5 separate regions of the Homo sapiens genome follow, and all the other regions are linked to region 1. Evidence: fine-mapped expression QTL. A gene starts in region 1. Each other region holds a variant in brackets. All regions are shown on one strand. Distances are between the middles of the regions.

Region 1 (5,106 bases):
TTTTCTTGTTGTTATTTTGAGACAGAGTCTCACTCTGTCGCCCAGGCTGGAGTGCAGTGGCACGATCTCGGCTCACTGCGGCATCTGCCTCCTGGGTTCAAGCGATTCTCCTGCCTCAGCCTCCCGAGTAGTTGGGACTACAGGCGCGTGCCATCACGCCCGGCTAATTTTTTGTATTTTTTAGTAGAGACAGGGTTTCACCGTTAGCCAGAATGGTCGCGATCTCCTGACCTCATGATCCGCTGGCCTCGGCCTCCCAAAGTGCTGGGATTACAGGCATGAGCCACCGCGCACGGCCAAAGATTCAGTTTTAATGTGAATAAATAAACAGTAAAAGAACACTATCTCAGCATAAGCACTGGTATGCTATTTATAAATGTAAGAGGATTTTTTTTTTATTAGGGAGTTTTTTGGAAAGCTTTTTCAGTTTGGTGTAAATAGTGGTCAAAATGAATCACTGAAAGGGAAAGAAAAGGCATCAGTCATCATGCTCTACTTGAGCAGATACATGATGTTCGAATCAGTGTTCTCCCCTTAACTAGAAATCCTACTTGTGGTTAAGGGATTTAAGACATTTTACTCATTCAGCAAATACTTCTTCAATTCTTATTGCCAAAAACTGTACTGACAACTTGGGAAAATTATATTGAGAGAACCAGGGTTTTGAATGAACTGTACAAAGTCCTTATGTTTTTCATATTTGCTTAAAATAAATAAGTAAATTTGAGATATAAAAGTCTATCAGTATTTTTAATGCATCTCTTACATACTAGAAATTTCAGGATCTTCTCACAATTCAAATGTGTTTGTAATTTTCTTGTACATAATATGCATAATTGTAAGTTCTTTTCCCCTTTTCTTCATTCAAGGTTTTTTTTCTGATTATATGGTCCTAGAAATGCACTGTTTAAATATTTGGGCTGGAAAAAACTTTGAGTAGCATTTATTTAATACAGTTGGCATAGCTGATTTGTCAGTTTCAAGTTTTGATTACAATGCACGGGGTCATATGTATTGTAATTCCTTGCACAATTACGTGGAGCCCTAATACAAGCTTCCAGCACCCTGGTGCACATTTCTGCTCCCTCCCTCCTGACCAGTGATGGCAGCTTGCAGTTCTAAGTCCTGAGTTTACATTCCTTAACTTCCTTTTCTGTATCCTAATTTCCTTTTCCTAAGTGCAAATGACACACTTTGGTTAGTCTGGACCCCAAATCATTTTATTTCAGGAAAAAGTGTGCAATAAATCTATGCATAATAGAGTTTTTATATTCGGATAACTCAGGAGTTGCTGGACAAACACCCCCCAGCTGTACACATGAGTTGCTCAGATCATTCTAGAATATCCTAGAGATCAGAGGTGGGTGATCTTGAGGAGCCAGGATTCTTGCTGCTACTCAGTGGAGTTAAATGCACGTGTGAGCTCCTCTCAATATAGCCTGTTGAGCCTAAACTGCATAGTGAGACTAGACTCAAAGATTTAGTTAACATTTCCTGAGTTCCTACTGTGTGCCCAGCATTGTTGACAGAAAAAATAATCAGTAGCCTCAAGGAATTCACTCCACAGGGTGCGAGGGCAGTCTGTATGCCAGTGCCACCGACGGCAGAACTGTGCACAGTGTGCTACGAACACCTGACAGCAGACACCTCCAGCTGGGAAAACCAGTTTTCCTGACTCCAACTCCACACAAACAGAATCACCAGGCCCAGCTCAGGGCACCCTGTCCTCGATAACACTTAACTAGGTGTGATTAGTCACGTTATTAGTTGTTGATATCTCTGCCCTCCACTAGAATGTAAGCTCCATAAGGACAGGGAATGTGTTTTATTCCCCCTCTATTTTCTCATTGCTGTTTCAATATGCTTGGCACTTAGCAGGCCTGCCATAAATACTTGTTTTTTGGATGGATAAATGTGAAAATAAATGAGAGAGACATTCAGCCTGGCTTTAAGGAGAAATTAACGTGTTTAGTGTATGAGGTTGGGCATCACCGGTAATAATTAGAATGGAAACCACTTGGCAGTTTATCAGAAAAGGGGAGTATTTAGGTGAAGGTGGCAAGGAGGGAGAGAAAGGAGAATGGCTTTTAAAGACAGTCGCTAACTGCTGGGGTAGGGTGGGGGCGGGGAAGAGTTCAGATGTGTTTCAAAGAACTTTGGGGGTTTTTTAAACATTTCTTTTGTAAGTTGGTTCTTTACCTAACTGAATTATTTTGGGAACAGTGATTGGCTCTATCTTAAAGATATAGCGGTTTCTGTTACTTCTTTTTTTTCTTATATTTTCTAAGCGTCAAAGCTACTGGAACTCCGCTTCCTAAAATGCTGGGAAGGAAAGGGTGTGAAAATGCCAGATGCCCCCGCCAGCACAGGCTGGGCTGCCTGGAAAGCCGATTCCCACTCCGACTCGCCCTCGTGGTGCGGGGAGGGACGCGTAGTTGTGTCCCGCGCTCTGACTGGCTGCGTTGGGACGCGGGGGCGTGTCTTGGGGGGGCGGGGGTTGGCGGTCATCTCCCGAGCCCTGATTGGCCATGGGCGAAGGGACTGATGGCCTGGTTGGCGCTGCTGAGAACTGTCGGGAGCTTCTTGAGACCGAGGACCGAAATCCCGGCTCCAGGCCTCGGGGACTGCGGACTGTGGGGAGGCTGGCCGGAGAGAGAGGGAAGGACGGGGCCTGGCCCCCGGGACTCCCTGTGCCTTGCTTGGAGCTGACGCCGACGGGTGAGTCGCCCCCTTCCTCTGCTCCTGGGCGTGTTCCTCACCAGCGGCGCCGCAGCGGTCAGGGCCCGCAAAACCCCACGCCTCGCCAGACGCTCAGCTCAGCCTGCCGGGTTTCTCTGGAAAAGCGGAGGCCCCACAGTGAATGTGCGGCCTTTTGATCGGTCCTGGAGATCTTCCGTGGACCCTCGTTTTTCCTTGCTTATAAACGTTGGTCAATTTGAAACTGGCAGCAGGGCATATGTGTTACGAAAGAAGAACTTTATTGAAACCAGTGGTGGTGTAGAGAAGACCATACTAACCATAACTGTGTATTACAGAAGTGAATTTCACTCCCCAAAAATGCTTAAGAAACAAGCATCCTAGAACAGCCCACATTGTGATTTAACAAACATTTACCAAAAGCATTGCTATATGTGGGGGCACAGGGCTAAGAGCAGGCAGGACTCTGGAGCCAACCTGTGGGGTTTGAGTCCAAATTCTGCCGGTTTTTTGTTTTTTGTTTTTTTTTTTAGCTGAGTAACCTTGGGCAAGTTCCTTTACCTGCGTCTGTTTCCTCATTTTAAAATGAGTTGTTGTGATGATTTAATGATTTAGTATATGTGAAGAGTTTTCTGCATATTCTAAGTGATTTATGGTATTAACTCGTTTGATCTTTGCAGTCACCCAGGAGATAGTATCACCATTTTCCTGATGCCAAACTGAGGCTCAGAGAGGTGAAGTAACTTCTTCAAGTCACAACACAACTGTTGTCCAGGAATCAGGCAGTCTGGCTCTGCTAACCCAGTTTTACCCACTGCATTAATGTACCGCATCCACTTGTTCACTCAGTTTCACCTGACAAATACTAATTTTGTCTCTCTGTGGAACAAGTTCTTTGCTGGGTGCAGGGAATAAAGCAGAACACCGTTCAGTTCCTGCCTTCCCAACGCTTGTAAATCTAGTGCAGGTCATTCATGGCCGGGCTGCAGGGTGTCCATGAATCCTGCTAAAATCATTTGCGAAATGTTGTGAGCGTGGGTCTTTTCTTCTGGAAAGAGAGTCTGTGACTCTCAGGTTCTGAGTTGATCTGTGATCCAAACAGAGGTGTGAAGAAGTGTTGTTTTAGCAGATCTGTGCCTAGTATGCCTGATACACAGCTTGAACTTCAAACAAACAGCAACAAAATTCCTACTGGTTGGAAGAATGAAGAACTTGTAAGAGCATAATAAGTGCTGCAGTAGCGTCCGGAGCAGGGTGCTGTGGAAGAGCACACAGAAGGCCACCTGCCCAGGAATGCCTCCTAGAGGCAGTGAAGGCAGCTGGGTGAAGGATAGGGAAGCAGTTCATTGGAACACTGTGGTGACCAGTCTGTCCATGTAGTGTTGAGACAGAAACAACACGTGAACAGCTGCAGCTGTTGTACCACTTGTGCGCAAGTGTAAAAGTCCATGGTGCCATGAAATCATGTAATGGGGACAGGAGGCTTCATGTATTCGTGAAGGTTAGAAAAGTTTCCTTGAGAAAGTGACACTTAGGCCTAAAAGTTGGAGCATTTTGGGCATGGAATCTGGCCCACAGTCTTCAAAGACCACATGGTAGAAACCAGTAGAGCACCAGGGACTGACAGGAAGCAAATGCAGCTGGTGCAGGAGAGGGAAATGGGAATTAGGGTGGTGGCAGAGCCCAAAGAGGCCTTGTAGGCCATGGTAAGGCATTTCTATGTTTTATTTTACTTTGTCTTTATCCTAAAATGCCATTGGCAAGTTTATTGCAGGGAACTGACAAGATCACATTTTGAGAAGAAGTTGGAAAGAATCCCAAGTGGATGAACTGAATATCTGGATGAGGACAAGATCTGTGGGGAGAGACTGTAAGGTAAGAAGAAGAGAGGTCTAGAACCAAGCCTTGAAGGTGAGCTTGTATGGGAGACAGATAGAGGGTGGCGAGAAGTATAGAAAGGGAGAAGAATCAAAAAAAGTCGAGTGTCCAGGAAGTCAAATGAGAGAATATTTCAAGGAGAAAGTGGTCAACTCTGCTAAAAGCTGCAGAAGTCAAAAGAGATAAGGAAGGCTGGGTGTGGTGGCTCATGGCTTGTATTAGTCCTTTTTCATGCTGCTGATAAAGACATAGCCAAGACTGGGCAATTTACAAAAGCAAGAGGTTTAATGGACTTACAGTGCCACGTGGTTGGGGAGACCTCACAATCATGGCGGAAGGTGAAAGGCACATCTCACATCGTGGCAGACAAGAAAAGAGTGAGAGCCAAGCGAAAGGGGTTTCCCCTTATAAAACCATCAGATCTCATGAGACTTATTCACTGTCATGAGAACAGTATGGGGGAAACCACCCCTATGATTTAATTATCTCCCACTGGGTTCCTCCCACAACACAAGGGAATTATGGGAGCTA
Region 2 (5,106 bases), 23 kb before region 1:
GTTAATCTCCCTAATAAATCTCCATTGGAACTTTTGGATGACAAAGTACGTTTGTCTGTGAGCAGTGATATTTTTAAAGGAGTCTTTCTTTCTGAGTAGTAGGTCTCAACAGAGAGCTTAAAATATGTATAAACCATGTTGTAAACACATGTGCTGTCATCCAGGCTTTGTTGTTCCTGTTCTGCACAGGCAGAGTAGATTTAGCATAGTTCTCAAGGGACCTAGGAGTTTTAGAATGGGCAATGAGAATTGGCTTCAACTTAAAGTCACCAGCTATGTTAGCCCCTCACAAGAAAGTCAGCCTGTCCTTTGAAGCTTTGAAGCTAGGCATTGACTTTTTCTTCTTTTTTTATTTTTGAGACGGAGTCTTCCTCTGTCACCCACGCTGCAGTGCAGTGGCACGATCTTGGCTCACTGCAGCCTTCGCCTCCTGGGCTCAATTGATTCTCCTGCCTCAGCCTCCTGAGTAGCTTGGACTGCAGGCGTGCACCACCATGCCCGGCTAAATTTTGTATTTTTAGTAGAGACAGGGTTTCACCATGTTGGCCAGACTGGTCTCGAACTCCTGACCTCAAGCATCTGCCTGCCTCAGCTTCCCAAAGTGCTGGGATTACAGGCATGAGCCACAGTGCCTGGCCTGGCATTGACTTTTTCTGTCTAGCTATGAAAGTCCTAGATGACATCTTCTTCCAATAGAAGGCTGCTTCATCAACACTGAAAATCTGTAGTTTAGTGTAGCCACCTTAATTCATTATCTTAGATAGATCTGGATAACTTGCTACTTCTCCACCCAGCACTTGTTGCTTCACTTTGTACTTTTAGGTTATGGAGACAGCTTCTTTGCTTAAACCTTATGAACCAACCTCTGCTAGCTTCCAACTTTCCTTCTGCAGCTTCCTCACCTCTCTCAGCCTTCACAGAATCGAAGAGTGTTAGGGCCTCTCTCTGGATTAGGACTATGCTTTAAGGGAGTATTGTATCTGGTTTGATCTTCTATCCAGACCCCTAAAGTTTTCTCCATATCGCCATTAAGGCTGCTTTGTTTTTTTTTATGATTCATGTGTTCATTGGAGTAGCACTTTTAATTTCCTTCAAGAACTTTTCCTTTGTTTAGACATCTTGGCTAACTGGTGCAAATGGCCTAGCTTTTGGCCTGCCTCAGCTTTCTTTTTTGTTTTTTTTTTTTGTTTGTTTTTTGAGACAGAGTCTTGCCCTGTTGCCCAGGCTGGAGTGCAATGGCTCGATCTCAGCTCACTGCAAACTCCGCTTTCCGGGTTCAAACGATTCTCCTGCCTCAGCCTCCCGAGTAGCTGGGATTACAGGCACATGCCACCATGCCCAGTTTTTGTTTGTTTGTTTGTTTTTAGTAGAGACAGGGTTTTACCATGTTGCCAGGCTGGTCTGGAACTCCTGACCTCGTGATCCGCCCGCCTTGGCCTCCCAAAGTGCTGGGATTACATGCGTGAGCCACTGCGCCCAGCCTGGCCTGTCTCACCTTTCAACATGCCTTCCTCACTAAGCTTATTTCTAGCTTTTGGTTGAAAGTGAGAGATGTGTGACTCCTCGTTTCACTTGAACACTTAGAGACCATTGTAGGGTTACTAACTGGCCTAATTTCAATATTGTTGTCTCAGGGAATAAGGAGGCCTGAGGAGAGGGAGAGAGGGTGAAAGAGATGGGGGAAAGGCTGGGTAGGGCAGACAGACCACACTACATTTATCAGTTAAGTTCACCCTCTTTTATGGGTGCAATTCATGGCACCCCAAAACAATTACAATAGTAGCATCAGAGATCTCTGATAAAAGCTGGGTGTAGTGACTGGTACCTGTAGTGCCAGCTACTCAGGAGGCTGAAATGGGAGGATCACTTGAGGCCAGGAGTTCAAGACCAGCCTGGGTGATACAGTGAAACCACGTCTCTTAAAAAAAAAGAGAAGAGATCACAGGTCATCATAACAGATATAATAATGAAAAAGTTTGAAATACTGTGAGAATTGATAAAATGTGACACAGAGACACGAGGTGAGCACATG[C/T]TTTTGGGAAAATGGCACCAATAGAATTGCTTAGTGCAGGGTTGCCGTTAGCCTTTGATTTATAAAATGCACAATATCTGAGAAGTGCAATAAATAGCAAAGCACAATAAAATGAGTTGCCCTTGTAAATTTTTCATGTTCAAATTGCTGATGTGATTTTTGTCTCCTGTTAGTCAACAAAGCCAAAAACGGGTTCTTTGAAAACATTAATAAAATTGATAAACTCTTAATACTGATTCGGACAAAAAAGAAAGAAAATACAAGTTACCTATATCAGGAATAAGAAAGAGGACATCACTAGAGATTCTCCAGACTTTAAAAGCATAGTAAAGAATATCGTAAACACTATACTGTCAATAAATTATATATCTGAGATGAAAAAATTTCTTGAAAGGTATAATTTACTAGAACTCTCATAAGAAGAAAAAGAAAACCTGAATAGCCCTATATCTCTTAAATAAATTGAATTTGTAATTAAAAACCTTCCCATAAACAAACTTCAAGCCCTTAGATGGCTTTATTTTGAGTTATATCACACATTTAAGAAGGAAGTATTTCCTTCTTAAATTAAACTCTTTCAGAAAACAAGATTGAGATTACTTCCCAACTCATTTTATGAGGACAGCATAACCCTGATACCACAACCTGACAAGGAAAGTTTGAGAAAAAATTAAAAGTATAGCCAAGTGTCCCCCATAAACAAAGACTCAGAAATCACTAAATTGAATCTAGCAATATTTTTTATTTAAAAAAAGTTTTTTTTGTAAAGACACTATGTGGTCTCATTATATTTACCTAGGCTGAGCTCGAACTCCTGTGCTCAAGCCATCCTCCCATGTTGACTTCCCAAAGTGCTGGAATTACAGGTATGAGCCACCGTACCGGACCGTGAACCTGGAGATATAGAGATTTTATATATATATATATATATATATATATATATATATATATGTTTTTTTGTTTTTTTGTTTTTTCTGAGATGGAGTCTTGCTCTGTCGCCCAGGCTGGAGTGCAGTGGTACAACCTTGGCTCACTGCAACGTCTACCTCCCGGGTTCAAGCAATTCTCCTGCCTCAGCCTCCTGAGTAGCTGGAATTACAGGCACCCACCACCACGTCTGGCTAATTGTTGTATCTTTATTGGAGACGGGGTTTCACCATGTTGCCCAGAGTGGTCTCAAACTCCTGAGCTCAGGCTATCCGCCTGCCTCAGCCTCCCAAAGAGCTCACTGGTGTGAGCCACCGTGCCCAGCCTGCAATATTTTAAAATACTGCTACTTCAGGATCAAGTGGGGTTTATCTCATGAATACAAAGTTGGTTGAGCATTAAAAAAATCAATTAATATAACCTACTGGGTTAATAGGATAAAGGAAAAGAGAAATTATCTTAACAAATGAAGAGAACGCATCTGACATAATTCAACACCCGTGTATACTTTTTAAAAAGGTCTTTTAGCTAACTAGAAATTCTTTAAAGTGCTATATTAGTTTGTTCTCACACTGCAAATAAAGACATACCTGAGACTGGGTAATTTATAAAGGAAAGAGATGTAATTGACTCACAGTTTCACGTGACTGGGGAGGCCTCACAATCCTAGTGGAAGATGGAGGAGCAAAGGCACATGTTACATGGCAGCTGGCAAGAGAGCATGGGTAGGGGAACTGCCCTTTAAAAAAACCATCAGACCTTGTGAGACTTATTCACTATCATGAGAACAGCACGGGCGAAACCCACCCCCATGATTCAGTTACCTCCCACTGGGTCCCTCCCATGACATGTGGGGATTATGGGAGCTGCAATTCAAAATGAGATTTGGGTGGGGACACAGCCAAACCATATCAAGTGCTAAATAGCAATTTGATAAAGGAAGTCTACAAAAAAACATAAAATCTTACTTAAAGGTGAAACACTGAATGCTTTCTACCCAAGATAGGAAAAAACAAGGATATTTGCTTTTACAAATTACTTGAAGTCTAGCCAGTGCAGTCATGGAAGACAGAGTGTGGATTATTAGCTTACCACCTCATACCCCATCCCCGTATTCTTTATCATAGCATTTTTTTCCCTAATAGTTACGTATTCAGTAATTTACCTCTGTATTGCCACTCTTTCTCAATAAGCTCCAGGAGAGGGGCATCTAGCATAATATCTGTCATATAATTAGAATTATAATAAATACTTAGTGTATTACTGAATGCATTTAATTTTGGGAAACTTTCTCTTCCCTAGATTTTCATTTTTCTTTTGGAGAGATGTTCACTAATTTATCCCCAGGGAAGGAAAAGTGAATGATCTCATTGGTGAGTTTAGGAGAAGGAGCTGGGCTAGTTTAGCTGAGACGGTTCCTTTTCTTTTAGTTGTAGAGAGCACACGTTATATTCTCCTCTTCTATGTGATACGTTTTATAGGGAAAGCCCACACTGCGGGAGGTGCTGCTTATGATTGAGTAGGTAAATCTGTTTGATTCAACAGTGAAATAGTATTAGCAAGTTTACCTGCCCTGAAACCTGGTATGTTTTCTACAATTCAGCTTTGCTAATAATATGGCTGATATTTTTATCTTTAGCCCCCTGGCTTACGTGACTGAACTCAAGAAGGAAAAGGGGCAGGAAGTGTTATTTATTGACTCACTTCAGTATTTACTAAGATTTAAAATAATGTTTTTCAAAAAACAGTGCTAAATTGCACTAGGCACATTGGCTCTCGTCTGTAATCCCAGCACGTTGGGAGGCTGAGGAAGGAGGATCTCTTGAGGGCAGGATTTTGAGACTAGCTTGGGCAATACAGTGAGACCCTGTCTTTACGAAAAAAAATTAAGTTAGCTGGTTATGGTGGTGCATGCCTGTAGTCCTAGCTACTCGGGAGGTTGAGGTGGGAGAATTGCTCAAGTCCTGGAGTCTGAGGTTGCAATGAGCTATGATTGCACCATTGCACTCCAGCTTGGGCAACAGAGTGGGAGCCTAACTCTTAAAAAAAAAAAAAAAGAAGAAAAAGAGTTCCTGTCATTCATTGAGGGCTTGCTATGCATTGTGCTCTGTCCTAAACACTCTATATGCATTATGTTATTTAATTCT
Region 3 (5,106 bases), 38 kb after region 1:
CTTTCATCTCCAGCCATAGGATTGTCACACCAAAGCTAGAAGGTTCCCTTTCTTTTTGTGGATCATATATAGAGTGTCTGCTAAATTGAGCCTTATTAAAAGATAGTGAAAAGAAGCACATGTTGGAATAATTGGACATCATTTTTAAAACAAAAGCTTAACACCTATAAACTCATGCCTTTCACCATATGCAAAATAATTCAAAATGGATCATAGACCTAAATGTGAAAATATAAAACTTTTAGAAGAAAACATAGGAGAACATTTTTATGATCTTGAATTAGGCAGAGTTTTCTTAGGTACAACAAAAAACACAATCCATGAAAGAAAGAAATTTATAAAAACTTGCTGTTTGGATAACACTTGCTCTTTGGATGTCACTTAAGAAAACAAAAGAACAAGCAACAGACTGGGAGAAAATATTTGCAAAACATACCTTTTTTTTTTTTTTCTTTGAGACGGAGTCTCGCACTGTCACCCAGGCTGAAGTGCAGTGCACAATCTCGGCTCACTGCAAGCTCTGCCTCCTGGATTCACGCCATTCTCCTACCTTAGCCTCCCGAATAGCTGGGACTGCAGGCGCCTGCCACCATGCCCAGCTAATTTTCGTTTGTTTGTTTGTTTGTTTGTTTTTTAGTAGAGACGGGGTTTCACTATGTTAGCCAGGATGGTCTCCATCTCCCGACCTCATGATCCGCCTGCCTCAGCCTCCTAAAGTGCTGGGATTACAAGCGTGAGCCACCGCTCCCAGCCAAAACATACCTATTAAGTGACTGTATTCTGAATATGTGAAACAATCTTACAACTCAGAAGACAATCCAGTTTTAAAATGTGTGAATAATTGAACAATCACTTTACCAAAGGAGATACATGGATGGCAAATAAGCATATGAAAAGATGCGCAACCCCTCCCACCCCGAGGCAACCTCTCATCTGTTTTCTCTCCTTATGGTTTTGCCTTTTCCAGAATGTCATATAAATGGAATACAGTATGAAGCATTTTTAGTCTTGCATCTTTCACTTAGAATAATGGATTTGAGATGTATTTATGTTGTGTGTAGGAGTAGTTTGTTCCTTTTGTTGCTGTAGTCTATTTACTATAGTAGTCATTAGGGAAATGCAAATCAAAGCCACAGTGATCACTACTTGGTTGAAATAAAAATAATTTCAAAAGCTATTGATGATGGACAGAAACTAAAACTCTCAGATGTTGTTGGTGGGAATGCAGAGGGGTACATACACTTGGGAAATGGTTTGGGAGTTTCCTATAAAGTTATGCATACACTTGTGATATGACCTAGAAATCCTACTCCTAGATATTTACCCAAGAGAAATGAAAACATGTTCACACAAAAACCTGAACATATTTTATAATCATCTAAAACTAGAAACACCCTAAATGCCCTTTAATTTGTGAATGGATAAGCAAACCGTGGTACATATATACAATAGAATCTACTCAGCATATAAAAGGAACAAACTGCTCCTACACACAAATAAATCTCAAGTGCATTATTCTAAGTGAGAGATGCAAGATTAAAAAGTCTTCATACTGTATTCCATTTATATGACATTCTGGAAAAGGCAAAACCATAAAAAGAGAAAAGAGATCAGTGGTTGCCTGTGAGGTGAGAGGAGTTGACTATAAAGTGGAGCTTAAGAGAATTGGGGAGGGGTAATGGAACTGTTGGATATCTTGACTGTGATGTGTGTGGGTTACAGAATGTATGCATCTGCCAAAACTCATAGATTTGTACACTAAATAGAGCAGTTTTGCTGTGTGTAAATTATACCTTAATAATTTTGACTTGAAAAAGAAAGATGTTGGAATGGGAAAAAAGAGTTGTGATGAGGTAGAGCTACCTGACACCATGAATATGAAGACTGGCCCAAAGGTGAGCAGCCTCTTA[T/C]ACTCCTAATGGGCAGCACTTCACAGTAGTTTCAGTAATACAACCTGAGTTTAAAGATGTTCAATTTGTTCTTATGTTTTTGCCTAATTGCTTACCATACTTGACCACTGTTGGCTAGTTTCTTCTCTCAAGTGCCCTTACCTCTACAGTAACCAGTAGAGCAACTTCAGTACCCAGTTTGAGTCTGGTTTCTACCCTTGGTTCTATCCTTGATACAGTTTGGCTGTATCCCCACCCAAATCTCATCTTGAATTGTAGTTCCCATAATCTCTATGTGTTGTGGGAGGGACCTGGTGGGAGGTAATTGAATCATGGGGGCTGTTACCCCCATACTGTTCTTATGATAGTGAGTGAGTTCTCATGAGATCTGGTGGTTTTATAAAGGGACTTTTCCTCCTTTGCTCGGCACTTCTCCTTCCTGCCGCCATGTGAAGAGGGACATGTGCACATTAAGCATTTAAAGATCGTTAAAGGGTAATACAAATAAAGGCCAAATTGAGTAAAAAAAGAGGACTGAATGAGTGCAGAAAAGATAGATATGGATGTGGGCTGAAGAAAGCTTCTGCAGCAGGGAGAGGAGGGAAGTTATATTTTAATAAGAATTGAATACCTACTTTTTTAAGGACGTCAGCATGATACTTATAAATTATGAGAGCGGAATCATTACTATTTTCTACCTGCATCCAGTATAGATGTTAGGACTAGGGAGAGGACTAATGATAAGCTTCCATTTCACCTTGGAGCAAGGCACCCAAAGTGGTGGCAGAGCCCACACAGCATAATTTATGCCTTATCGATGGTAAAAAGTTAAATGGGGATTGGTGAAGATAGACAAGGTGGAGCTTTAAAAAGATAGAATAGAGCAGCCCAAAGCTGAACAATAGGGTCTTTATTGTCATCTGCAATAGCCAGGTTGAAAGAACATGTACATTTACCATGAGAAGGGAGATTTACCAAGTTGACATTTTCAACGTGACCCCAGAATGCAATATGGTTTGACTAGGATTTATGTGAATTACAGTAAGAGAGCCTCTCAACTTGGCCTGCTTTTGGAAACAATGGCCCACCCCATGGTTTAGGTAATGCTGTATGCATTCTGAGGGAGGTGGTCCGTCATTTACAGATGAAGAAAAGGCTGAGGGCATAAAAACATCTTAAGTCTTCTGCAACCAGGGTAGATGGAATTCTAACTTGAAACACTAATTTCAGTTTGCAAATGCAAATGAGTTCTAAGAGAGGGAGAAACTGTTTTAGGGGACCATTTGAAATCTGTCCTTCATATTCACATTGAATGTAAGGGAAATAGCCACCAATCCTCAGAGTGTGAAGGAGCCAACATTAATCTCTTCCTAGATCTAAAACTGCCAAATTAAAATTTGTATCAGTGACTACTTGACCCACTTTCCTTTCTTGCTTTCAGGGCACATCCTTACATGAGCCTAATCACTTATTTGCCAAGAGAATAATTAACGTTTTAGAGTCGCTGTGCTAGTTAATAGTGTAAGACAAAAATAAAATTCTTAGCCCCCTAACCATCTGAACAAACCCCTCCTCAGCCAAGGGCATTCCAAAGTTAACCTGAAAAACTAGTTCAGGCCAGGATGGGAAGTGGTTGTTGGACATGCCTCACACCTGACCAGCATTAACATCAACACAGAGATTTTCAGACTGACAGAAGAGACTCTTTAATAAGAAACATTTACAATCTATTACCTCTGAAGCCTGCTTCCTAGAGGCTTTATCTACATACTACAACCTGGTCTCCACAACTCCTTATCATAACCCAGACATTCCTTTCTATCAATACCAGGTCTTTAGACAATAATCAATTGCCAATCAGAAAATCTTTGAATCTGCCTATGACCTGGAAGTCCTCTCACCCCCCATACCTGCTTTCAGTTGTCCCGCCTTTGTGGCTGAAACAATGTACATCTTACATGTATTGATTGATGTCTTATGTCTCCCTGAAATGTATAAAACCAAGTTGTAGCCCAACCACTTTGGGCACATGTTCTCAGGATCTCCTGAGGGCTGTGTCATGGGCCATTGGTCACTCATTTGGCTCAGAATAAATCTCTTCAAATAATTTACAGAGTTTGGCTCTTTCACTTACAATAATTTGGCACCTAACATCAGGCCTCAGAGAAGACTCAGAGCCCTGAAGGAATTGGCTGAACTTGGAGCTAAGGTACCAGCAGGGGCCCAATGATAGTTCTCCCCAACTTTGAGCATTTCCTCCAGTGGAATTGTTAGGTCCTTCTGAGCACTGGACCTCCCATTTGGCTGATGGTCCTTGATTTATTCTTGAGTTTTTTTTTTTTTTCCTCCTAGAAAGTTATTTGGGATCCCTGTCTAGTTCGGAGGTGCATTCTAAAGGTGTTCTCCATTGCCTTTTTCTAAAGACAAGGAGAAGGACCCCTTTTTGGGCACCTCATTTGGTTTCCGGTTTGGAGGTGCATTCTAAGAAGTCTTCTCCGTTGCTTTTTCTTCCAAAATTAAGCTCAATTGGTTTGTCTGTGCATTTGTGTGAGGAACTGAACTGTTATTTTCATAGATAAATGAGACTGAGGTCCTCAGCTCTGAAGAAAAAGGGCATTTTGTTCCTCCCAGCTGAAAGGTGCTCCTGGGTGACTGGGGACGAAGTAAAAGTGTCTGGGGGTTGACTTCCTGAGACGTGCAATGGCCCTACAGGGAACCCCCAAGAAAATTAGTTTAGAAAGGCTCTTCCAGGAAACACATATAAGAGCTGATCACTTGGCATTTTGAGCCCTCTTGGAGGTAATAGAATTCCAGAGAGAGAAACAGACATCTAAGAGGGCAGAAACAATTCAGTGGTGGAACACTGTAGAGTCCTGCTCACAGTCAGCACACATCGAGCCACCACACACACAGAAAAACCCAAATGTCTTTCAAGTTTATGTGATACAAGTAAAATATTTAATAAATAAGCTGGCTTTCAAATTATTGGTAAAGTAATATTAGAAATGTCTTAAGAATTTTCAGCATTTTTTATATTTATTGATCAAGCAGTTCCATACTTATCCCTGCCAAATACTATAAGATGTCAACATATGGCATGAGGTTTATAAAACTATAAACCCAACCCAAAACAGAATGATCTTTGCTTGTGTAATTTTTTTTATTTTTTGAGATGGAATCTTGCACTGTCACCCAGGCTGGAGTGCAGTGGTGTGAT
Region 4 (5,106 bases), 680 kb before region 1:
TTTAGGGGCAAGGAATCATTCCTTGGCTCAAGGAATTTCTAGAAAAAACAGACTTCATTTACTTTCTCATTACTTATTCAACAGAAAACACTATCTGAGCTTTTCCCTTCCTCAAACAAAATATTTAATGTATGAAAGCAAGTCCTTTGAAGTGCCAAAAATGCAGTCGTTCCCTTCACAAGTAAACAAAATAATGAGTAATTATGGATTAAAATCCTACCACTTTTTCTTCTTCCCCACCCACTCATTCCCCATAGCATACAACTGAGAAGTATCAGGGTCACCCAGCAGCCATTTTGAACCAGATACTCCAGCGTCCCTCTCCATTATCAAAGTGTTGTGAAGTGAACAGGGAAGGGGCAGCAGCTTTGATTATTCCCTTGTTGATTCTCCTGGGTGTCCCTGCCACCCCAGGGGGCTCTGTGAGTGCAGAGAGAAGCCTCGAAGCATAGTCTGAAAATAAACAGGAATCTTTTCTTTTCCTTCTGCCGCCAACCCTGAAGGAAACAGGACAAAGAAAAGGGATGAGGTCACCTTTGGTTACCTTTGGTTAATGCCATTGCACAGGAGTGGGTCTCTCATTTATATTAGGGCATCAGTAAATACCCGTGAAATAAATAAACTTGATTTAGATAAACAACAGACCAGGGAAAAGTAAGGTAGAGTGAGGTTATGTGTGAGTAATTCCTTAGCTTAATTCAGACTGTTAGAGCCCTCCACCTAGGAAGACAGGATTACATTTATTTATTTTTAAAATTATACTTTAAGTTCTAGGGTACACGTGCAGAACATGCAGGTTCGTTACATAGGTACACATGTGCCATGTTGGTGTGCTGCACCCATTAACTTGTCATTTACATTAGGTATATCTCCTAATGCTATCCCTCCCCCCTCCCCCCACCCCACGACAGGCCCCAGTGTCTGATGTTCTCCTTCCTGTGATTTGCTGCACCCATCAACCTGTCATCTAGGTTTTAAGCCCCGAATGCATTAGATATTTGTCCTAATGCTTTCCCTCCCCTTGCTCCCACCCCCCGACAGGCCCTGGTGTGTGATGTTCCCTTTGCTGTGTCCATGTGTTCTCATTGTTCATCTCTCACTTATGAGTGAGAACATGCGGTGTTTGGTTTTGGAAGATAGAATTTCAAATGATTTTTTTTCAGATGCATTGTGAAAACGTCTCCCCTGGGTCAGAAAGAAAGGCTCGTAATAACCCTCAAGGTTGAGACTCCAGAAAGGCCAGGTGACAGAACAAGTGTCACAGGTTGGCCTGGCAGCAGAAAGGGTTTGAGATGAATCTCTGACTTCCAGACTGCACACCTTTGCTACTCAAAGTGAGGTCCCTGGACCAGCAGCAGCAGCAGCAGCGCTGGGATGCTTGTTAGAAACAATGAATTTCAAGCCCCACCCCAGCCCCATGGAGTCATTTTAACAAATTCGAGAAGCACTGCCCTACACCATCAGTGAGATGTCTAGAAGTCATCAATTACAGAAAGACCTAGTTTGGGAGCAGCCTGGACAACATAGTATGACCTAATCTCTACAAAAAATAAAAAAATTAGCCAGGCGTGGAGGCTTCCACCTGTGGCTACTCTGGAGGCTGAGGTTGGAGGATAGCTTGAGCCTGGGGAGGTTGAGGCTGCAGTGAGCCGTGACCACGCCACTGTAATCCAGCCTGGGTGACAGAGAAAGCCCCTGTCTCTCTCTGGTTAAAAGGTGACAGGATACCGGGGAATGCTACTCATCAATGAAAAGGAACAAGCATTCCATACGTGCAGGCTCCTTGGATGGGTCTCTGAGGCATTCTGCTGGGTGCAAAAAGCCAGTCTCGCCGTTTGAGGTGCTAACACCCGTAATCCCAGCATTTTGGGAGGCTGAGGCAGACAGATTGCTTGAGCTCGGGAGTTTGAGACCAGTCCTGGCAACATAGCGAGACCCTGTCTCTACAGAAAATTTTTTTAAAAAGTGATCTGGTAGTGGTGGTGCATGCCTGTTGTCCCGCTACTCAGGATACTGAGGTGGGAGGATTGCTTGAGCCCAGGAGTTTGACACCAGCCTGGGCAACATGGTAAAATCCCTATCTCTACAAAAATAAATAAATAAATAAATAAAAATTAGCTGGGCATGGTGGCTCATGTCTGTGGTTCCAGCTACTTGGGAGACTGAGTCGGGAGGATTCTTGAGCCTGGGAGGCGGAGGTTGCAGTGAGTTGAAATCACACCACTGCACTCCAGCCTGCGCGACAGAATGAAACCGTGTGTCAATAATAATAATAATAATAAAAACACCAATCTCCAAAGGCTGCTTACTATATGGTCTCATTTACATAACATTCTTGAAATAACAAAACTATAGAGATGGAAAACAGATTAATGGTTGCCAGGGGTTTGGGATGAAGTTGGTGGAGGAAGGGCCAGAGTGATTCCAAAGGGGTAGCATGAGGGAGATCTTTGCGGTGAGGGAAGAGTGACAGTGGTGGTGGTTACACGAATCCACACGTGGCAAGATGTCACAGAACCATACACACACATTGTAGCGATGTCAACTTCCTGGTTTGGATATTGTACTAAATTTATCTAAGATGTTACCATTGGGTTACTCTGTACTATCTTTGCAACTTCCTGCGAATCTGTAATTGTTTCAAAATAAAAAGTGAAAAAAAAAAA[C/A]CCCAAACCAAAAAGGAGATGGTAGTCATGTAGCAATGATCTAGAGAGATGCCATCTTCATGGTGAGATAGGTGAAGCCTCATTCTAACGCTTTTATCTGGTTTCCTGCTGGGAGCCTGTTTTGCTGAAGGCATCATTGTGAAATGATGAAAAAGGTCCCTTTTGCTAAATCCTCCTGGATGCAATCTGGAATGTTCTATTACACAAAATGATGTTCTCACAAGGTTCTAATATAGGAGTGTGGTAAGGAGAGTGTGACAGGTTCCAGTCTAGGCCCACAGGACATCAAGTCAGAAGGAGTTGAGGAAACAGGTCCAGATGGAGAAGAGGCCTGGCCAAGGTCACCCAGGTAGCAGATGACAGATTCAGGGTCAGGGGTGAGATGTGGTGCCCAGCACAGAGCCCCTCCATTGTACCAATCAGCCTCTTCCCTTTGTAGCTCTTCATCCCAGAGGTTTTCCGTAGCATTAAAATTCAGAACTCATCTGAAGGTTAGCTCTGAAAAGCAACATCCAAAGAACGCACCAATGACATCAGGGCATGTCTTCTAATTGCCTATTCACGCAGACAGATTGTCTTTTCAGATTCAGGGCTAAACTTGGAGATGTGTCCTTTCACAGGGCACTCGTTATCTGCCTGCCTCATCAGTGATGGGAACTAAAGCGCAATGTGATTGCTGAGTATGAGTTCTATTTTTTTCTGCCAAGCAGGAAGTTCAAAATCTGTTGGGTTATTTTTAAAGAGGGTGGAAAAAATAGGCATCATAGCAGCTTCTGCAATGGCCCCGGCCAAAGGCACGTGCTGCTTTATTCAAGGCATTGGCTAGGCTGGGAGGAACAGAGGTGACGTGAAGTTCCACCAGGGAGGTTTCTTGGTGGAGGGGTGGGGGATGAGTGTCCACACACTCAAGTGGCAGCACAGGGCATATGGGTTTGCCTACTAACTTGATGAGGACAGCAGTCCCAGATTTTTCTGGAGGGATATCTAGCAGTTTGTTTCATTTGGGGGTTTGTGGCTACCCTCTCCCTCTCCACAGAGCTGTGGTCCTCAAGCCCTGGACTGAGAGTTGGCTCTGGCGGGCGTGGGCCCTGCTCAGCCATTTGTGGGGTCTTGGACCTTAGACACACACCATGGGAGTCTCGTGTCATCCAAGTCACACATGTGAATCTCACATTCCTGTGTAGACAAGAAATTTGGAAGAGTGAATCCCTGCAACTCTAATCTTTTGAAAATATGATGTTTATAAGAAAGGAAATCCAGGTGTACTTGGCTTCCATTTGCAAACATTTCTTGATTACTTTGTGTGAAGCACTGTGCTAGGAACTAGAATCACAAAAGAGCTCAGTTTGGGGGGAATTTCCCTATACTCCTCGGAATAAGTAGCAAAACCCTAGAGAATCACAAATCACCATGGGAACCGCTGCTGTAGAAAGTTCTAGAAATGAAGGCAAAGTCATTAGCCTTCCTTTCCTTGTATGAATCATCAATTTCCCCTTCCTTCTGCTCAGTCTTAGAAGTTTAGAAAAGCCTTTTCCCTGCTACTAACAGTGTGGGACTCGTACAAAATATCTCCTTTAATCCTCCCAACACCACTATTCACTAGTTATAGGTTTTTGTTTTTTGTTTTTTTTCCTTTTTGAGACGGAGTCTTGCTCTGTTGCCCAGGCTGGAGTGCAGTGGCACAATCTTGGTTCACTGCAACCTCTGCCTCCCAGGTTCAACCGATTCTCCTGCCTCAGCCTCCTGAGTAGCTGGGATTGCAGGTGCCTGCCACCACGCCCCGTTAATTTTTGTATTTTTTAGTAGAGATGGGGTTTTGCCATGTTGGCCAGGCTGGTCTTGAACTGCTGATCTCAAGTGATCTGCCCACCTTGGCCTCCCAAAGTGTTGAGATTACAGGCGTGAGCCACAGCGGCCGGCCACTAGTTATAGTTAAACCCATTTTTTTTTTTTTGAAAGAGGAAGGTGAATACTAGATAGAGTAAGTAACTTGTCCAAAGTCTCAAAGCTAGTCAGGGGTTGGATCCAGTTGGAACAGGGTTTTCACGTCTGTGCTGGAGTCCAGGGCTCAGCAATCAGTGCTGCCAACAGAAGGTGCGCAATAGATGTCTCCCTGAGTGGAGAAACCCAGGAAACTGCTGGCCTTGGAGACTGTGTAGGGGCTAGGCAGAAAGAACTAGAAGCGGGAGGATGTGAGCACTTCTGCGACTATTCATTCGTCTGTGACTGAAGGTGGGGGTGGAGGGAGGTGGGTGCTGAATTCTGAAGGCAGAGGACCCAAGACTCGTGAAATAGATTTTCTCAAAGAACCCTTTATCCGCACAGTCTGATGTTGGCAAAACACTGTGTGATGAAAGTCTTGGTATGACAACATACAGTCGGATAGCACTTTTTGCCAAGGGCTTTACAGGAAGAAACAATGTGAGATCCAAAAGCAGAA
Region 5 (5,106 bases), 57 kb after region 1:
GTTTGGCACAAGAGGCCTAGCTTTTGCCCTGTCTCAGCTTTTGCCATGCCTTTCTCATTATGCTTCATCATTTCTAGCTTTTGATTAAAAGTGAGAGACTTGCAACTATTCCTTTCTCTTGAACACGTAGAGGCCATCATAAGGTTATTAATTGGTTTATTTGGCCTATTAATTGGCCTACTATATACAAATGTAGTATATAAGTATATACATATGTTACATATATATACTACATATACTGTGTATATACGCATCCAGTATATATACAGGCATAACTCATTTTATTGCACTTTATTGCAATTCACAGATACTGCCTTTTTTTTTTAACAAATGAAAGGTTTGCCTGTGAAATGAAAAGACAGCCTATAGTATATACACTATATATATATATATATATATATATATATATATATATATATATATATATACAGTGTGTGTGCTTTCAAAAGCAAAATGCTATCCCTTTATCCATTTTTAACTTAATGGTAAGAATGGGTAAGAATGAGGCTACCAGGCAGAAGGTCCCAAAGGAACTTGAAAAGAATTACGATGAATAGGATAGAGACTTGTGTGGGATATAGTCTGTGGTACTGGTGGTCTACATAGGACAGAGCCCCACTGGGAAAGATGACACTGCCCTGGTGCCGGGGAGGAGGATGAGTAAGATATGGCTCTAGATGTACATGTGGCATGTTTAGAGTAGGATGCTGCCTTCTCATTTCTGGTGCCCATGGTTCGGAAACGTGGATTTTCATGGACCTAAAATACCAGTTGCAGCACGACTTGTGAGACCTGTGAAAGCACCATATGGTCTGGGAAGCTCTAGAAAGGGCATTTTTGGCATAGGATATGGCCTGTGGGGTCCAGGTGCATCACAGTTGAAGTTGGGTAAGGACCATTAGTTGGGGAGCAGGATGGTCCAGAAAGAGGAAGAGTTCTTGGGTTCCCAGAGGCAGTCCAGTGGGAGGCACAGAGGGATGCAATCCTGTTAGCAAAGGTCCGAAAGGTACAATGAAGAGTGTTGCACTTGGCGGGAGTCCAGATGGCATAGAAGGCACAGCACATGGGTTCTTCCAAGGTTTGGAATCTGGCCGGCCTTAAGGAGGTTGACTAGATTTCTATTAATCACAGCAGGACCTGGTCAGGGAAGTGTTCAGGTAGAGCATTTGCCATAGAAAATTCATCAGACATTTTCCTGGCAAGATCCTAGTCTTCAGTAGAAGTGGCAAAGGGTTTGAGACAACTGGGTGCTGAAGAATCAAAAGCAGCCTGACAGCACTAATACCAACAGCACATGGCGCCTCCTCCATCCAACTTTTTTCTGAGACAGAGTCTCACTCTATTGCCCAGGCTGGAGTGCAGTGGTGCAGTCATAGCTTACTGCAGCCTTGAACTCCTGGGCTCAAGCAATCCTCCTGCCTCAGCCTCCAAGTAGCTAGGACTACAACTCTGCATCACCATGCCTGGCTAATTTTTTTTTTTTTTTAAAGAGATGAGGGTCTTGCTATGTTGCCCATGTTGGTCTTGAACTTCTAGGATCAAGCAATCCTCCCACCTCAGCCTCCCAAAGTGCTAGAATTACAGGTGTGAGCCACCATGCCCAGCCAACTTTTGTTTTTTAATAACAGCTTTATGGAGATATAATTGACATACCAAAAGATCTATCCATTGAAAGTGTACAGTTCAGTGCTTTTTAGTATACTGTATTTACAGAGTTGTGCAAACATCACCACTATCTAATTTTAGAACATTTCTTCTCAACAAAAAGAAATCTATGCCCCTAAACAGTCACTCTGCATCCTCACTTGTATTTGTTATTTTTTGTGTTTTTGATAATACCCGTCCTAACTGGGGTGAGATGATACCTCATTGTGGTTTTGATTTGCATTTCTCTGATGATTAGTGATGTTGAGTATGTTTTCATACATTTGTTGACCATTTGTGTATCTTCTTTTGAGAAATGTTTATTCAGATCATTTGCCTATTTTAAAATCAGATTGTTTATTTTTTGCTGTTGAAATGTTTGAACTCCTTGTCTATTCTGGCTATTAACCCCTGTCATATGAATAATTTGCAAATATTTTCTCCCATTCTGTAGGTTGTTTTTTCACTCTGCTGATTGTTTCCTTTGCTGTACAGAAGATTGTTAGTTTGATATAATCCCATTTGTTTGTTTTTGCTTTTGTTGCCTATGCTTTTGGGGTCTTATTAGCAAAATCTGTTTCTAGACCAATGTCCTGAAGTTCCTCCCCTATGTTTTCTTCCTGTAGTTTTATAATTTTGGGTCTTATATTTAGGTCTGATCCATTTTGAGTTGATTTTTGTATATGGTGAGAGATAGGAGTCTAGTTTCATTCTGCATATGGATATTCAGTTTTTCCAGCACCATTAGTTGAAGACATTGGCCTTTCCCCAATGAGTGTTCTCAGTGCCTTTGTCAAAAATAAGTTGGCTATAGATACTTTAATTAATTTACCTGTCCTCTATTCTTTTCTATTGGTCTATGTGTCTGTTTTTATGCGAGTACTTTGCTGTTTTGGTAACCATGGCTTTGTAGTATATTTTGGAGTCTGGTAGTGTGTGATGCCTCCAGGTTTGTTCTTTTTGCTCAGGATTGCTTTGGCTATCTGGAGTCTTTTGTTCTATATAAATTTTACACTTCTTTTTCCGTTTCTGTAAACAATATCATTGGTATTTTGATAGAGATTGCATTGAATCTGTATTTTGCTTTGCGTAGTACCAAACTGCTTTTATGAAGTGCATATAACAATACCAAAACCTGGCAAAGTGAGAAGTACAGATTAATATTAATTATAAATATCAATGAAAAAAATCTCAAATAAAATAGAATCAAAGAGCATCTGGTAGCCTATTAAAAAATAATACATCATGACCAAGTAGCACTTATTTTAGGAATGCAAGTAGGATTTACATTTGAAGAATCAATAATAAAATAAAGAGGTTAGGGAGAAAAAATC[A/G]TATAATCATCTTCAAGATGCTGAAAAGATATCTGAGAAAATTTGACACTTATTGTTGATTTTAAAAGCCATTAAAGTAGAAATAGATACATGCTTGACCTGGTCAAAATACACTTGCATGTGCACACACACACACGTTGCAAAAAAAAAAACCTTCAAACCTTTTATCTATTGAGGGCATTTCCTCAATAGATATCATCAAAATGATCTATCATCACAATAAGTCAAAGAATGCCACCATACTGAAAAAAGGTATTTGTGAATGCAAGAAAACAAGAGGACAAAATTAGCGATGTAAAACTTGGAAAGGAAGAAGTACGACTCATACCATTTGCAAATATGAATACTTATAACTCCAGGAAACCAAAGAGAGTCAGCTGAAGAGATACCATAAACAAGAAGAGAATTCAGTAAGACTTCAGATAGCAACAGCCTTCACATACACAAGCAACAGCTAGTATTAATAGAAGGTATGATGGCAAATATCCCATTTATCATAGTGTAAATGAATGGATGAACAAATGAATTAATAGGGAATAAATAACAGGGAATGTTCCTATATGAAGAAAACTATACTAAACACTTTTGAAAGACATAAGACAAATAGAGAGACATACAATGAATTTGTATAGGAAGACTCAATGTTATAAAGATATCATTACTCCTTAAATTAATATATAAAATAATCACAATCTCAATAAAACTACCATCAGATTCTTTTTGCTGGAACTAGACAGGTTGATAATAAAGTTCATATGAAAGACCAAATAAGAACAAATAGGAAAATCCAGAAAAGAAGAGCAGTAACAAGTTTAATCTTATCAGATATTAAAACAAATATTATAAATCATGTATAAGTAAACTAGTAGGGTAATGGTGCATTAACAGACAGATCAACCAATGGAACAGAATGGAAAAGCCAGAAAAAGAGGCAATTGCATATGAAAATCTAGTGTATGATAAAGATGGCATCTCAAAGCAGTGGGAGAAAAATAGACTTTATGGTTTTTTAATTTTTAATTTTTGGGGTAGATAGTGACTGGCTCTGTCATCCAAGGGTGCAGTCATGCTATTATAGCTCACTGCAGCCTTGAACTCCTGGGCTCAAGTGATTTCCCTGCCTCAACCTCCTGAGTAGCTGAGACTACAGATGTGCACCACTACACCCAATTTTTAAAACATTTTTTGTAGAGATGGGGTCTATGTTGCCCAGTTTAGTATAGAACTCCTGGGCTCAAGTGAGCCTCCTGCCTCAGTCTACCAAAGTGCTAGGATTATAGACATGAGCCACTGTGTCCAGCCTGGACTTCTTAATAAATGCTGTTGGAATAATTGGTTAGCCATATGAATAAAGGTAAAATTAGACCCATTCTTCGCACTATGTACCAGGATAAGTTCCAAATGGACCAAATATTAAAATGTGAAAAATGGCATCCAGTGCTTATTTCTAAGTCCATTCTTCAAGAAAAGGATCTAGGGCTTGGAGAAGTGGCTGATTTTAGGGTTAGGGCAGGGAACATACAAAATGAGCCTGAAACATCTGTTAGTCCCAGGAAATCGAGATGTGCTCAGAGCAAAAGGATGGAGGCATGTCAAAAAGACATAGGAGCCAACACAAAAGAGCTTCCAATAGCCAAACCTGGAAGAATTTGAGCAACAAAATAAATAACATAGTATTACAATAGACCTCAAAGTATAAAATACATATCCATGCATCTATCTACAATTAATAAAGGAATAAATAAATAAATAAATAGGGAAGAAGAAACAAATGTGCCATACAGAAGAATGCCAAATAATTTAAATACGTACTTCTCCCTCAAGGAGATAGAGCTTAATTCCCTTCCCACACTTGAATATGTTCTGGGCTTCCAAACACAGGGCATGAAAAGGGGAGGAAAAATGTAACTTTATGGTGGAGAAACCTGGTAAACTCTACCTCAGCCAGATCATCAAAGTTAACATCATCAATGATAAGTCATGTTGATATCATGTGCCCTTGATGTGATTGTGATGAGAATAAAACTTGTCTCTGTGGTCTTTCAGTAGTCTGTAACCCCAGTCTGTATGTGAGAAAAACACCAAACACCAATGGAGGGATATTCTACAAAATTCATGGCCAGTATTC

What was found. PIP is the estimated chance that this variant, and not a neighbour inherited with it, causes the effect.
Region 2: its variant is the best candidate, but not a certain one, in a credible set for the expression of MTERF2 in sun-exposed skin (GTEx, PIP 0.57).
Region 3: its variant is the best candidate, but not a certain one, in a credible set for the expression of MTERF2 in whole blood (TOPMed, PIP 0.64).
Region 4: its variant is the best candidate, but not a certain one, in a credible set for the expression of MTERF2 in whole blood (INTERVAL, PIP 0.61).
Region 5: its variant is the best candidate, but not a certain one, in a credible set for the expression of MTERF2 in whole blood (TOPMed, PIP 0.69).

What each region holds. Positions count from the first base shown.
Region 1 is chr12:106,984,581-106,989,686 of GRCh38, reverse strand. MTERF2 (mitochondrial transcription termination factor 2) reads left to right here and starts at 2,541. Exons shown (of 3, transcript NM_001033050.3): 1 at 2,541-2,718; 2 at 4,462-4,572.
Region 2 is chr12:107,007,441-107,012,546 of GRCh38, reverse strand. The region is part of intron 2 of CRY1 (cryptochrome circadian regulator 1); the gene reads left to right. Among named protein-coding and RNA genes, the nearest start is that of MTERF2, 23 kb to the right of the region's middle. The variant C/T (reference allele first, on the strand shown) is at 2,033.
Region 3 is chr12:106,946,578-106,951,683 of GRCh38, reverse strand. No RefSeq gene overlaps it. Among named protein-coding and RNA genes, the nearest start is that of TMEM263-DT, 6.4 kb to the left of the region's middle. The variant T/C (reference allele first, on the strand shown) is at 1,911.
Region 4 is chr12:107,661,006-107,666,111 of GRCh38, reverse strand. No RefSeq gene overlaps it. Among named protein-coding and RNA genes, the nearest start is that of PWP1, 22 kb to the left of the region's middle. The variant C/A (reference allele first, on the strand shown) is at 2,667.
Region 5 is chr12:106,927,651-106,932,756 of GRCh38, reverse strand. No RefSeq gene overlaps it. Among named protein-coding and RNA genes, the nearest start is that of TMEM263-DT, 25 kb to the left of the region's middle. The variant A/G (reference allele first, on the strand shown) is at 2,979.